Linked DNA regions of Homo sapiens: region 2 is linked to region 1. The links come from fine-mapping of genetic effects on gene expression. Tissue or cell type: aorta. Region 1 holds a variant in brackets; the other region holds the start of a gene. All regions are shown on one strand. Distances are from middle to middle.

Evidence for each region. PIP is the estimated chance that this variant, and not a neighbour inherited with it, causes the effect.
Region 2: it holds the start of ADAM23, and the variant in region 1 is fine-mapped to the expression of ADAM23 in aorta (GTEx, PIP above 0.99).

The regions. Positions count from the first base shown.
Region 1 is chr2:206,544,586-206,552,694 of GRCh38, forward strand. It overlaps ADAM23 (ADAM metallopeptidase domain 23), which reads left to right. Exons shown (of 26, transcript NM_003812.4): 7 at 2,844-2,916; 8 at 3,696-3,769; 9 at 5,510-5,575. Among named protein-coding and RNA genes, the nearest start is that of FAM237A, 94 kb to the right of the region's middle. The variant G/A (reference allele first, on the strand shown) is at 4,316.
Region 2 is chr2:206,440,204-206,448,312 of GRCh38, forward strand. It overlaps ADAM23 (ADAM metallopeptidase domain 23), which reads left to right and starts at 3,329. Exons shown (of 26, transcript NM_003812.4): 1 at 3,329-3,877; 2 at 5,104-5,321. The coding sequence starts at 3,664. RefSeq lists a silencer at 3,774-3,903.

The sequences.
Region 1 (8,109 bases):
AGTGAAGCCAGGAGAGTGGAGAGTTAAATTTTTTTTTTTTTTTTTTTGAGATAGTCTCGCTCTTTCGCCTAGGCTGGAGTGCAGTGGCACTATCTTGGCTCACTGCAAGCTCCGCCTGCTGGGTTCACGCCATTCTCCTGCCTCAGCCTCCCAAGTAGCTGGGACTACAGGTGCCCGCCACCGCACCCAGCTAATTTTTTGTATTTTTAGTAGAGACGGGATTTCACCGTGTTAGCCAGGATGGAGTTAAATTTTTTATACATACACAGTTCCGGGAAGTCCACCAAGAGAAGACAAGTGGTGAATGAAGCACTTAAGGAAATTAGAGAGCTGGAAGAACATTCTAGAAGATGAGCAAATACAAAGGCCTTGAGGCAGGAGTGTGCCTAGGGTGTTCGAGGAGCTTTGAGGAACCTGACAGGGTTGGAGAGGAGTGAACAAGGGGAAGAATGGGAGGAGATTAAGGCACTGAGAGGTAACAGTACAGAAGTCAGATCAGTGAAAAGAACTGTAGCGGGAAAATAATATTTTGTGAGTGATAGAGTTAGATTATTGCAGTTATTTGATGGGGAACAGAAAACATTTTTTATCTTTAGGGATTTCAAATTTAGATAAAATTGGGCTGGGCGTGGTAGCTCACGCCTATAATCCTAGCACTTTGGGAGGCTGAGGTGCGCAGATCACGAGGTCAGGAGTTTGAGACCAGCCCAGCCAATATGGTGAAACCCTGTCTCCACTAAAAATACAAAAATTAGCTGGGCGTGGTGACGGGAGCCTGTAATCCCAGCTAGTGGGGAGGCTGAGGCAGAAGAATCGCTTGAACCTGGGAGGCAGAGGTTACAGCGAGCCAAGATTGCACCTTTGCACTCCAGCCTGGGCGACAGAGCGAGACTCCATCTCAATAAATAAATTAATTAATTAATTAATTTTGAAACAGCTAACAGTTAGATAGGCTACTGATAATAAAAGCTGAACAGACAAACTTTTATTGTCTTGGTTATGGCGATGTATGTATGAATATGGGGTAAATTTCAAAGTTGATGCAGAAAAGTTTTAAAGGGTTGGTGTTTGAATAAACCTCTGTCATTTTCAACTAGTAACTATAAAAATTATCAGGTAATGAAGACAGCCCACTTAGATAAAGACATTTTGATTAAGTAAAATGTTATTTATCTCACTCCAGTAAGGAAAGATAATCTGTGTACAGCAAAATTATTCGACTCATTCAGCAAAAACTCTGACTTTGATTTCTGGCTTTGATTAATGGCCCTGGTACCCTAACAAAATCCACAAAGAACAAAACACAGATTCCCAAATAATAACTATTTAAGCCTTAGAGTTTTTTAAATGTATAAAATGAGATAATTTTTAATGCATTCATAGTAGGGCAATTTTGTAGATTTGATGAATTAATAAATGTAGGTGACAATGTCTATTAAACTGTCATAAGGATTTATAAATATAAACTATTGTTATAATGTTTAAAGCATTGGTTTTGCATTGTTTACTTGTGATCATATTATTCAGGGCCTGATTGTTACATGCAAATTGCCTTCTCTTTGCCTTCCTTCCTGTTGCCTACCTTTTGGTTATGTAATGATTTGTCCTCATCCACACTATGGGTAGAGGAAAGGAATAGTGCTTTAAACTTTAGTCGATTTTTTAAATTGTGTTGCTGATCCCATTGTTAATTTCATTACTATCTTTTCACCTTTTACCAGAATTTAGAGCTTACTGTAATTAATTTTAGATATTTTGATGTTTGTTGTTAGATATTATTGATTTTAGTATGCTTTGCGATAAGTCAAGTAATACGCATGGGATATTTCTAATGAGAATTCATGTTATCTCTCAAGTAATAAATGAATAGCAAAACTGTTATAAGTTTTATGTAACCTATTAAGAAGTTTCTTTTTTATAACTTTTTCTGATTATAAAACTAATATAGGAAATTTGGAAAAGCAAAACAAATACTTAAATAGTAATTTTCCATTATCCTGTCCCCCAAAGATAACTTCTTGTCATGTTTCAGAATATGTTCTTCCAGTTTTCAATGATATAGTCCCATATATTTTTAAAAATAGATTGGATCATTATTTTATAAGATAATTTTAAGACAATGATGTATCTCCCTGAGCCTCAATATCTTTATTTGTAAAATAGGGATAAACCATGCACTATATGGCGTCTTTGTCAGGACTAAATTAAATAATGTGTACATTAACAGTACCTGATACATACTATGCACTCAGTAATGGAAGCTAATAGGAATAAGAATAATGGTAATAGACATTCCTAAAAGCATAATTTCTAGGGCAAAAAATGTAAATGTTTTCACGTTTGTTGATATACCTTACTAAATTTCTCTCTCAAACTATGCTACCAATTTCCTCTTGCCAGCAAGGTGTGAGAGTGCTTTTGGCCTTACAATGGTAATTAACTATGGATATCGTAATTTTTAAAACTTCATCAGTTTTATGGCAAAAGTTGGTGCTTCATTAAAAAAAATGCATGTTGAAGGAATATGAAAGCATTCGGCATGTTTTTACATGTTTATTGACTTTTTGTGTTTCTTGTGAATTTCCCATTTATAGCTTTAAAGAAAGCTAAGATTTAAGAGTAACCAGTAACACTATGTTTTTATCTAAACTGGGGCAATTAGATGATACTCTTTTATTTAAAATTAAGATTTCAATAAGACATACTTTTCACTTTTGATAGCTAAAAAACTGACATATAAATATTCCCATTTTAGGAAGGACATTAGAGAAAGTTCCAACACTGTTTCATAGAGGCTTGTTCACATCTTGCTTTCTAAATTGCCTACAATTGTTTTGTTTCAGAAAAGCACAGGTCGACCACATATAATCCAGAAAACCTTGGCAGGACAGTATTCTAAGCAAATGAAGAATCTCAGTAAGTTTTAACTAAAAATAGCGATTATATTTTATGTAGTATGAGCTTTTATCTGGTGGAGCTCAGTAGATATGCAGGCTTGTTGGAAGTGGAATTGGTCTGATATCAGGGGTGAACATCGTGGATCAGCACTGGAATGAGTGGTGGCTCTTGTGTAAAGAGGCATGGAGAGTCATTTCCAGTGCAGACTAAAACATGAAGACTTTGAGTAAAGCTGCCTTGGGAACCAGAAAGTGTGGTCAAATTTAGTACAGTGATTTACAGTGAGGTTCATCCTGAAATCTTCCTGGCAGTTTGCTGCTCTTGAGCCAGCTTGGATTGCCTCCCTCTCATGCTCTGCTCCAGACACATCTTAAGTGTGCTAATGTTGGAAGAAGCTTCTTTTTGATTGTTGGGGCATGTGATTTTATTTCTGTATATTACTGCTAAAAGTCTTTAATAATTTATGCAAAAGCTAATGCCATACATTATTTTGAATGCTAAAATGAATTAGACATAGTAGAACTCTGTCAAATTTTCAGATATTGTCAAGTGGTTTTATATCAAATATGCATCTTCTAATGAATCTTGAACATTATGTTTTCTTGATGTTTGGGACAAAATTACATTTGAACTATCTTTGTGGTCATGAGAGTGTGAAATATATAATGATCAGTGTGCTTTTTTTCACCTTAGTTTGACATATATTATCAGTGCCACTGTTTCTTCATGTAATATTTTAAAACATACTCCCATTGAAATAAGCATAAAATTTTGATACTAATTTTTCCTTTCTGCAGCTATGGAAAGAGGTGACCAGTGGCCCTTTCTCTCTGAATTACAGTGGTTGAAAAGAAGGAAGAGAGCAGTGAATGTGAGTGTGGCATTGAGCCTTGGGTGGGCCTATTTTACTCAATGAAGTCATGTGCCTATCACCCCACATTATCTAAGTGTACCTAAAACAGTTCAGATTTTGGGGACTGTTGTTTAAAAATGAAAACAATAAACAAAAAACCCTATGATTTGAGCCTTAACACACTGCTTTTTATTGATCTCTTTCTGTTAGTGATTCAAACTGATTACGGTAGTCTCTGAACCCTGACGTCATCTAAAGAACGTGTTGTTTTAGCTCTGTTTTCTACGTGTTTTCTGATGATAATTGCAGTGCGTTTTATTTTCTATTTAAAGTACAGCAGACTTTTCTTTCTATATGGCTTATATAGTGTCATATAAAACATTTCTGTTAATAAAAAATCTAGAGAGAGGAGTTAGGTTTTGAAATGTTGGCTAATCATACATATTTATATTACTTTCAGATTAAAAACTCTGTTACACCAAACTTTAAAGCTGTATGTGTTTTTCAGAACACAATGAATTTATTTGACTATTAGCAATATAACAGTTTCTAAATAAAAATCAT[G/A]TAATTGTATAATCAACTACTGTTATATACTTCACATGTATTGATAAACGTATAGGGGCTTTGTAATTGAAATTATGTTTCTGGTCTTTTCATAATAGGCTAGAAAGCTGTAATGATGGGGACTGTTTAGTAATTACATGGTGAATGCTATGTAACTGAGAATTAATTCCACAGCTTATACATTACATGGTAATTTACTAGATAACTTAATGAGTAACTATAGTAGAAATTGCACATTTTAGATAATGTTTTGCTGAGTGTATTTTTTTTGTGAAAAAAATAGACCACCAGCCATCAAAAACTTAGTTCCAGTTTAAATTTTCCTCCCTTTTATGAAACTCTTATGATAATTATGGATACATTTATTATATATTATATAAATTATTATTAGATCTCTTTTAGCTCATTCATAAAGATGTGGTTGGTAATAATATGTTTTACAATGGCTGCTGTTCTTTCCCTACAGTCCACCTCATCAAATATAAAGTGATCAATGACTATGTACATAAAGAAAAAAGAGCCACTATTATAATTTTCCAACTATGAAAAAGAAATAAAAGTCCAAATGAAGGCTAAAATACTTACTCTTAAAGAATTATCTAGTTAATTTAGAAGACTTTAGACTGTAATAATTGCCAATATTTTTTCCTTTGAGAAATTGAGCAGTTAAGAATTAGCATATTATTTTTAGAATTTCACTCGAGTGAGTTAATGTTTCTATTTAACTACATTGATATCTGTATCAGATATATCTGGAAGTAATTATAACTTATGCTATTCTTATTAAATGAGTTTTACATAGATTTTCATTGACGTTTTAAGTAAATATGAATATTTTATCACATTTTAATGTGAAATTGAGATTTATTTATTTTAACATAATTATGCTATAATTTTTCTCTAGAATATTTTTACATATAAAAACCATATACAACAACATGGACTGTTTTCTATGTTGATAAGTAAGTACCTTAATGATAATAAAATACAGTTATTTTCTAAATACTTGAATATGTACCCATATTTTATGATCACTTTTTAAAATTTGCCTGACCAACTTTCTTCTAAGGTGTTTATAAAGTAGGCAGCAGAGAGTTGTTCTGAAATTCAAAGTCTTATCTACAACTTAACAGTGAGCACTAGAGAGATTTTATGTCAATCACTATTCTGACCATATATTTTTATTTTCCGTAGCCATCACGTGGTATATTTGAAGAAATGAAATATTTGGAACTTATGATTGTTAATGATCACAAAACGGTAAGAATATAGAGTCAGTGGGTTTTAGAACAGATAGCTTACTTAAGAAAGAATACATTTTACTTTATAGTTAATCATTATTTTTTACTTATTAACCCCAAGATATTCAGACATATTAAGTGACTTGATTTATTTGTCGGTGTTTGGAGACTCTGAGTTTTATAGAATTTTCACAACTCTAAACTTTCCTTACATTTAATAATTATAATTAATAGATTTAGCTATCTGGCATCTTTTGTCTTCATTTAAAATTCTTATTCTCTACTTTTCTTCATCTATGTATTTGGTCACTGCTTTCTAATTTTATTCCGTGCTTTTGTCCTGCTAATATGTTATTTTTTCTTACTAGTTAATTATGCTTATGGTAGATACAATTGTAGGAGGCAAACATATAAAATAAAGGTTTATCTAAAGTGAATATCTTTGATGACTTATCGTCTTTTTTTTTTTTTTTTTTGTGAGACGGAGTCTCGCTCTGTCGCCCAGCCTGGAGTACAGTGGCGCGATCTCGGCTCACTGCAAGCTCCGCCTCCCGGGTTCACGCTATTCTCCTGCCTCAGCCTCCCGAGTAGCTGGGACTACAGGCGCCCGCCACTACGCCCGGCTAATTTTTTGTATTTTTAGTAGAGACGGGGTTTCACCGCCTTAGCGAGGATGGTCTCGATCTCCTGACCTCGTGATCCGCCTGCCTCGGCCTCCCAAAGTGCTGGGATTACAGGCGTGAGCCACCGCGCCCGGCGACTTATCGTCTTTAAATATTGGAAAGATGAATAATCTCGTGTTAACTTCTGTGGCAGTAAAATGTGATTGAATATGTCATTTCAGTAACACTTAAAAGATATATGAAAAACATTCATTGTTCCTCATTTTCCCCTCTTGAAGATACAATAGAAACTCCGTTAACTATACTTAACCGTTTCCTTTATAAAATTACTTGCCTGAAGCCCAGAAGAGTCTTGGTCAGTAGGCTATATACTAGTACACCCAATACTAGTGGTGTGCTGGTAAATTTTAATACCTAGCTCTCTTGATTTATAATGTTTGCTGATATCTGTGGTGTAAATATTGCCACCATAGCTGATTTCAAGCTATCAAAGTGAGATCACTGATGAGGAGTTAGGAGAGGATGTATCTAGTTGGCTCTCGGGATCTGATGGGAGCTGGCTCCAGCAACCACTGCCACACTCCCCAGACTGTTTAGGCCAATTGTAATCTCTGTTGTAGTTATGTGATTGAACTTTAAAAGTTGTAAACTCTAAGGCAAAAAGTACTTGTTTTATCAAAACAAAGTTGCACTTCTGAAAAGACTTTATATAGATGAGAATCTTTTAAAAAATGCATAGAAATCAGGTATTGGTGACAAACTTATGAAAGATTGGAACAAAAATTGAAATTGCTTTGGAATTATCTTTAAGTCTTTGTTTTACTTTAAGGAAACCAAAATTAGATTAGTACATGGTATGATAAGGTTGTGCTTCATGCTAAAATGATGTGAAATTCTAATTAGCTGGCCCTACTCAGAGAATGCCTTGAAACTAGAAATTTAAAAAAATAGTGACTTAATTTATATTTAAACTTTTAAGTTTCTACTTTAATGGATGTTTTCCATTAACTATCAGTTTAATTGTGTTGAATATCAATAGAATACCTCTTACTTTTGTATACACATTTATTTTCTGTTCCAGTTGCCTTTAAATATATTGCTTGAGATGTTAGTAAGAAGCAAAATTTATCAGAACACATATAATTTAAGAGAGGTCCTTTTTGGTGGAAAGGAAAGCCAGATGTGTAGGCAGTCATTTTAGACAGTAAAGGCTAAAATATGAGTTTCTGAAGGACTTTAATTTGCTTGAAACCCCAAGATAGTTTTTTTATCTGAATTATTTTTGTTGATTGGAACATTGAGATTTTTTTTCCCAGCTGATTCTCAATCTTGAGCATTGTGGCATGTTGTGAAATTATGGCTTTTGAAGCCTAAGCTTTTTTCAACATCCATTATATAAATACTTTTAGAGTAGTAGAAATAATAATTAAGATATATTCAATGTCTTTGAATGCACAAAGTGCATTCTCAAATAGCTGTTAATCTATAGAATCTGTTCTCAAACCTTTACTTGCAATTCCAAATCTCTTGTTCTACCATAATATATCAGGAAAGTACATGAAGCTATCAATCAAAAGAGCAAATCTCAGTAACTGTGCAAAATAGGAAACAGTTACTACTAAGTGTTAATTACAATTAAACAGTTATAGTTTTTTGGTAATTGTTAAAACAGCATATTTTTTGAATTTATTTTTTAACCCTTCTCAATGGTAAACATTTAAATAACCTTATTCTTATGAATAATAAAATAGCATACTTCTTAAAATATTATTTTATATGTAGAAAATTTCTACACACCATGTCACATGTTCTGTGATAGAGTTCCTTATTTAGGCTATCAAATCTTTTAAGGGTAAATTTTAATAATTCATTTTATTATTGTTGTTAGTATTATTATTATTATTGTTATTATTTTGAGATAGGTTCTCAC
Region 2 (8,109 bases), 100 kb before region 1:
GCTACCTTCCCCTGCTTTTTTACTTATTTTACCCTCTGGACCTCTCTTCTGTCATCCCCTTCTTCTACTTTCTCCCCTAGCATCTCAGCCCTCTTGAGGCCAAGGCCTGCTACATCTAATATTTCTATTTCTGTCCTTTGCTTGCTCCTGTCCAGACCCAGTCTTCTCACTGGTTGCAAAGTGGGTCCAGTTCTACCACTGGAAACAGATTTTGGCAAATAGAGACCTTCTGATCTCCTCCCTCACCAGACCAATGGACCATTTTTGTGAACAGTATGACGACCCTTCCTGGGTATTGCTCACATGCACCCCTCATGGTGCTTACCTAGGGTCCATATTGCCTGGTGTAATTTCCTTCCCATGGACCTTCTGGCCACCTGCCTTCACCTACGACTGCAGCATTTCTCCATGTCTGCCACTGTGACTAGATCACTCCAGTGATCCTCTGATGGCCTTAGGATCCAACACACATTGGTAACCAGGGCCATTATAGCACTCAAGCTTCTGGTATATTTCTTTATTCCAGTCCATCTTGCTGAATCCCTCTGTTTCCTACCTGTGAGTGCCCCTCTATGAATGCTGATTTGATTCCAGGTACTATACTAGGCTGTGGAGTCAGAGATGACCAAGATACAGCCTTGCTCTCAGTATTTTTTGATGGAAGAATGATGATATGCACATACACGAATACAGAGCAAAGCAGTAGGTGGCAAGTGATTAAGCAAGTCACTAAATCTTATGAAAGCACAGAGGGGAATATTTAGAAGTAAACTCTATAAAAATAAAAATTCTGAACTACCTAATAAGAATATTACTAACTCTACCAAGTTGACCAATTAAATTATTTAATCAGTTAATATTTGATTCTGTTTTTAACCTTCCCTTAAATATATGGCTTAAAGACTAAACTTCCAGTAAATTTTTTCTAAGTAATGTACTCTTTCTCTGACTCATTATTTCATTTATTGATATCTTATTTTGACTCTAGCAATGTCTGTAACCATTAAAGTTCTGTAAATAAATGCAGTCTTTTGACTATAGTACATAAGACAACATCCCTCTTTGTAAATACCCCAACCCCTTATTAGAAACTATATTGAGGCCAGGTGCGGTGGATCACGCCTGTAATCCCAGCACTTTGGGAAGCTGAGGTGGGTGGATCACCTGAGGTCAGGAGTTTGAGAACAGCCTGGCCAACATGGTGAAACCCCGTCTCTACTAAAACTACAAAAATTAGCCGGGTGTAGTGGCACGTGCCTGTAATCCCAGCTAATCCCAGCTACTTGGGAGGCTGAGGCAGGAGAATCGCTTGAACCTGGGAGGCAGAGGTTGCAGTGAGCTGAGATCGCACTACTGCATTCCAGCCTGGGTGACACAGCAAGACACCATCTCAAAAAAAAAAAAAAAAAAAGAAAAAAAGAAACTATATTGAATCCTCATTCCATACCCCAAGTGCATGAAATGATGTGTTGTAACTGGTGGGTGGGTTTGGTCAGTCCAGGTTGGCTGATAGGTTTATTTATCAGAACAGACTTTAAGAGGTTGTCACTGAATTGCAAGAGATGCCTTTCAAGTAACTTGCATCTGGGTGCTTTGCACCTTTCATTTCCCTCTCCCTTCTCATTGCTTGTACATCTCCTTTCTGGCTTGCTTTCTCTCAGGCCCTTTTTCAGGATGCATATTGTGTCAAATATAAATTTGGAAAACCTAGCCAGAGAATACTTGACTTGAGGGAGACAACCCTAAGAACATTGACCTGCAGTGGGCACTCCGGTGGGGCTAGAGTGTTCACTAGCCTGCCCCAAGTGTGACTTCTGCTTGTGTGTATCACCCATTTCTTTATTCATTTAGTACATATTTTCCAAGCGATTTCTCTGTGCCTCAGACACTGTGTGAGGTCCTAGGGACACAATGGTGTGCAGAAGGGAAAACTGTTGTTGCCCTCACATGGGGGAGGTAGCAACAATTACAAATTTACAGGAATAAATATGTGATAATAATATCCTAGCTCAACATAGAAAGGAAGTTATCTCAGTATTTACCTAACAGTTTTGTAATGTGTGTGTGCGCGCGCGTATATGTCTTCTTCTTTTCTCTTTGTTAAGTGTGAGTGGAGAAGATGATGGCTAACACTGAGTTCTGTCATGGCCATGGCACTTTTATACCCACATTCTTTCTTTTAATCATGGAATTCTCCACCCCAGCCCTCACCCCGTGGATGTCGGAGTAAGACAACATTGTTATCACTCAGATTGTCATTGGGAGGGTGAATAAATGAATGCTTGCATTATGAGAGTTTGGGGGCAGAAATATGCCACAGACTCTTATCTGAAGCCATCAGATTTAGTGGCTGCGAACCCACCGAAGTCAGGGATTTACATTTTTTACAGCAACGAGAGAAAACTTCCCCTTTCCTCTGCAGAAGTCAGGACTGGATCTCAAAAATAGAAATGTGTCCTCCTAAATGTGTGCCCATCCCCGTGGTTGACAAACAACGGATTTCCCAAGATAGCTGCCACACACTTGGTTTCTAATCTCTGTATTGCTTCCCCGCCAGAATGTCGAAGTCCTTCCCGAATATGCCCAGTCATACTTTCTGAACTTTTGAGCAAACACCGTCCGGCTTCTTGTGCTTTCCTCAAAGACCCCAGGCACCGGCAGGGAGGACACAGGCCGGGGCAGAGCGCCCCTGCGCGGGGGATTCCTGCCACTCCGCGCCAGCCTGCGGCGCAAACGCTCTTCTCAGCCGCAGTCCCACCCGCTGCTGGCAATCTGAATGAGGAGCCGCGCTATTTTTACCTCCCCGGCTGCAATCCTTTATATTTACATGCAGGAAGCAAATATATAAGGGATTAAGAAGGAGATGCGTGGCCTTAGTTTATCCAGAGCAGGAAGAGGTTGGAATAGGAGAGGGTATGTGAAGTCTGGGGTGGTGGAAAAGGCAGGTGGACTTCGGCTGGTTGTTTTCTCCCGATCATCCCTGTCTCTGGCCTGGAAACCCCCGTACTCTCTTTCTTCTGGCTTATCCGTGACTGCCGGCTCCCCCTCCACCGCCCCCATCTTTTGAGGTACCACCCGTCACCTCCGATGCTGCTTGGGCTGCTGCATCACTCTGCTGCTTTACCCCCTTCCCCGCCCCCCAACAAAGCATGCGCAGTGCGTTCCGGGCCAGGCAACAGCAGCAGCACAGCATCCAGCAACAGCATCAGCACCCGAAGCCCCGCTCGGGCGCGCTCTCGGGGGGCGGGGCGCACGCCCGCTCCGCGCGTCCCCGCGCCGCTCGCTCCCGCGCGTCCCCGCGCCGCTCGCTCCCGCGCGCCGCCTCAGCATCCTCAGGCCCGGCGGCAGCCCCCGCAGTCGCTGAAGCGGCCGCGCCCGCCGGGGGAGGGAGTAGCCGCTGGGGAGGCTCCAAGTTGGCGGAGCGGCGAGGACCCCTGGACTCCTCTGCGTCCCGCCCCGGGAGTGGCTGCGAGGCTAGGCGAGCCGGGAAAGGGGGCGCCGCCCAGCCCCGAGCCCCGCGCCCCGTGCCCCGAGCCCGGAGCCCCCTGCCCGCCGCGGCACCATGCGCGCCGAGCCGGCGTGACCGGCTCCGCCCGCGGCCGCCCCGCAGCTAGCCCGGCGCTCTCGCCGGCCACACGGAGCGGCGCCCGGGAGCTATGAGCCATGAAGCCGCCCGGCAGCAGCTCGCGGCAGCCGCCCCTGGCGGGCTGCAGCCTTGCCGGCGCTTCCTGCGGCCCCCAACGCGGCCCCGCCGGCTCGGTGCCTGCCAGCGCCCCGGCCCGCACGCCGCCCTGCCGCCTGCTTCTCGTCCTTCTCCTGCTGCCTCCGCTCGCCGCCTCGTCCCGGCCCCGCGCCTGGGGGGCTGCTGCGCCCAGCGGTGGGTATGGCCCCGTGCCCTTTGCGTTGGCTTTCCCGCGGGGCCCTGCAGAGGAAAGCGAAGGGCGCGCGGGTCCGTGTGCTCCGGGCTTGTCCCCGGCTCGGCCTTTCCTTCCCTCCCTGCCTGTCTTTCCACCCTTCTCGTTCCCAAACCCCCATTCATCCCAGTTCACTTTTGGAAGTCCATTTCTGTTGCATTCGCGAAAAACCCATTCCAATTCTTGTTGGTTCCACTGGGAGGTGTTTAGTGGATCCTGGGTCCCTCAGCGATCTCTGTGCAACTTGCGGAGGGGCAACCAGTGGATGGGAAATACAGCGAGGGAGCAAGTTGCTACTTGCGTGGTGGAACCTTAATGTGAATGCGGGGAGGATGTAGTGATAATAGTGGTAATGGGCTGTTTCCTCAAATTTCGTATCCGGCGCATTCAGTGCGGTTGGAATTAAGGTGGGGGAGGCACACTTCGGGGACCAAAGAATTAAGGTGCTGAAGACATACTTCATGCACGACCTTTGGTTCTGATTTCTCAAAGTGCTTGTCATTATAATGAACAATTAATATAATACCATCTTCTATATATTGATGATTGGAAGTCACTGAAAGCAGAAAGCTGGCTTTGTCAGGAAAATAAAAAGAAATTGGGAAGCTGCCAGCATCTGTATCCCTACATGGCAAAGTATGTTTGCTCATCTTAAAGTTAAAAGAGAAGGGAATTGTCCATTTTGTTAAAAGAGTCGATTAATATTCGGTATCCATAAATTCAGTACTCAAGTTATCTTAGGAGCGTTCTTAGCTCTTGGATGGGATGCCACTAGGCAGAGTAGAGTTGTGCTTCTGTGGACTCAGAGAAGGGGTGGAGATCGGGGGCAGGACCCCTGAACATGTTCATTTAATGACTCTTCTTCCCTCAAGTTCATTCTACCCCCCCCCCAACACTTAGAAGTATAGATTTGAGTCTGACTAGAAATGTATATATAAGACATAAATCAAAATAAATAGTGCACAGTTGTATAAGCCTTATTGGCTATTTATTAACTTCTCCAGGCCATTTTATTGTTGAAATAACTTGCTTTACTCTAGCTCTACTTCTTAACTGCTTATAAATAGAAAACTTTGTGTTTGAAATTAAAGGAAAAATGCATTTTAGTGCTTATGTATTTATGGGGTAAATATGTGTGTGTTTGTGTATGTTTGTATTTTCTGCTCCCCCACCCCCCTACCTCCACCAGCTCCGCATTGGAATGAAACTGCAGAAAAAAATTTGGGAGTCCTGGCAGATGAAGACAATACATTGCAACAGAATAGCAGCAGTAATATCAGTTACAGCAATGCAATGCAGAAAGAAATCACACTGCCTTCAAGACTCATATATTACATCAACCAAGACTCGGAAAGCCCTTATCACGTTCTTGACACAAAGGCAAGACACCAGCAAAAACATAATAAGGTAGGCAGGAGGCTGGCTATGCAAAAGTAACTATCATGAAGAGTTTTCCTTTGATTTGATTTTCTGCCAGAATCTGAGTTCACAAATTTTACTGCAGCATTTTATTAAGAAAGCAATTAATATTATGATAGGGGAGAAACTGGAAGGAATTAACTTGGGATCTACTGGGATAAGACTGTTGTTTCTCTTCTCTGACTAAACTGGAACTAGAATTTTCTGATACCTGAAATGATATCCATGTATCTTTCAGGTACATTGGGCACTGAACAGTAGTTAAGTGAATGTGTTTATGATTCTAACTTGTTTCTGTGAGGCTTTATGTAAGGGTGCAGTATTCTGCCTTGATATAAAACTGTCTCCCATGATATAAAAACTGCTTTCAATCTGCACATGCAAGATTGCTTCAAGAAGCTATTTGGCTGCAGTGTCTCCATCAGTCTTTCCACTTAGAAATTGAGTGTTTAAACAGTCTGTTTCTTTAATTGATCAGTAGGAGGAAAAAAAAATTTTCTGTTGTATTTTCAATAGGTAAACAATTTGACATTTAAAAAGATTATGGTGACTAGACACAAATTATTTGCATAATATGAAGACCAATTTTGATTGGCATAATTCTTCAGTACCTACTCTGCATTGATTATGAGCAGTTGCTTTACTTTCAGGTTAGTTCAGAAAGTGGAACTGATATTTACCAAGGTATCAGTAGAAGACAAATGTTTAATATCCAAAGAGTTTAAGGGATCTTTTTCCCTGTGTTACTATTCTTTACTTGAATTAATATTATTTTGAACCCCGAGCAGATTTAAACAATGGATTATCGGTTCTTCTGTTGTTTATCGGGAGCAGAAAATAGAGTCTGTATGTTAAATGTTTCATTTTGATCTGTACTTGTTCAGGTGAGAACAACAGTTAGCAATTAACTGTCTAAACATCTAGAATTTAAGAAAGTATCTGCAGTTTACATCATTGTTTTTTATTAGTTTTCTAAAATATAGGTGAGTGGTAACAGTATTTATCCCCATTTTACAAATGGGGAGCTAGAAATTTAAGGCTTTTGGGTGATTTTCCTATGTTGTAAAGCAGCTAATATAAAATTCAGGTGACCTGAATGTTTAATTTTTACTATTTTTTACAAGTTAGGTCTCTGAGAAAGTGCTTTCTTCACCTTGAATATTACTGGAGAGGTGAACTTTCTTTCACATTATTTTGAAGTGGCTGCTACCCACCGTGAGATAAATGTGTCTCTGTTCTCAGCCAGCCCTTTTCTCCATAAGCTCCTATATAACTTAATGGGGTGACTAATAGGTCATGTCTAACTCATTTGTCTTATTGATAGGAGAAATGGGTGTTGTCTTTAAAGAAGAGAAATCCAAGGCCCTTTTGATAAAATGCATTGAGGCTTTTATAGCTTTCCTTATGAATGAGACCTTTTAGAGTTAAGTGGTTAGTTCTCAAACTCCAGCACCTTTGCTTAGGATGCTGGAGGAAGGAAAAACAGCTGCCTCAAAGCCTGTTTCAAAGAATGCTCAAGCCCTCCTCAGCAGAGACTTGAAATTTCAGTGGCACTTTTTAATAACTCAGATGTTTGAGGCTATGACTAATGCTTGCCTTATAGTTTAACCTTATGTGGCTGTTTTCTTTGGTGGGACGTGGTTTGACTGTAATATACCTGACTTCCGTGATAATAAGGTTTGTTAAACCTGTACCCACCGCTTACCTAGAGGAATAGTTGGGTTTCTTTTATACTGTACTTTGAAAAGAATGTTTCTACAGAAATCGTATTTGAAAGCATTTTTCTTATTAGTTTAACTCTATAAACATTTGTTGCACCTTTCTCATATGCAAGCGGTATGCTAAGTATTCAAAGATAAGAGATAAAGGTTAAAAGGATGAAAAGACATGATCTATCCTCCAGGAGGCAGGAAAATGAGATAAGCAAGATTCTAAAAGTGCTCCCGTACAGGTATAGACAGTGTTGTTGTTTGGTGGGTGCCTTGAAATTACCCTTTGTGTTCTGTGACCTCCCTTTTACTTCTGTTTTTAAGCATCTCTTGAAGTAGTTGATAAAAAGTGTTCCATCTGCTTTCTGCTGTATCTTAGGATGACTTGCTTAATAACAGTGATGAGAGACACTTGCCAGTTCTGCTGCTTTAGAAATGTTTCAGTAAGAAAGTATAGAATTTCATTTCTGCTTTTATGTAAAGAAGTTTTTAATATCTGTGTTATGTACCTTTTTTTCCCTCTCCTGATTTCATTGCACTGAAGCACATTTTAATGAAAGCCTTAGAAATGCTGAATCACTGTGCCTTTCTCATGGATCCCTAGACTGGGGGTAGAGGTGGAAATGGAAATTCCCAAATATAGGTTGCAAGGCCAAGCTCCACATTTATGTCTGAAGAAATTTCGTAAATGTTCAATGTTGATCAATCTTTATTACTTTATAGCTGTGAAAGTTAACATGTTTATTAACTCTTCCAGAATTGGTGAGTGTAAAAGCAGATTGTGCAAACCACCTCTTTGCATCCTAATGTTTCTGAATGCCTTAATGTTTCTTTGTCAAACAATGTTGAAAAATCTTTTTTATCTGCATAGAGTGATGTATAACCAGTTGTCCAAACTGTGCCATTTTTTAAAGTAGAAGTGGGCACTCCTAATAATTATGCCAGGTTAGTAGGCATAAACCAAGGTAGTCTAGAGCAGGCAGGGAGTTTTGACACCTTGGATCCAAATGCTGTATTCCTTGATTTTTGGTGCTTACTCAAATTCAAGATTCTTTAAAGACAATTTT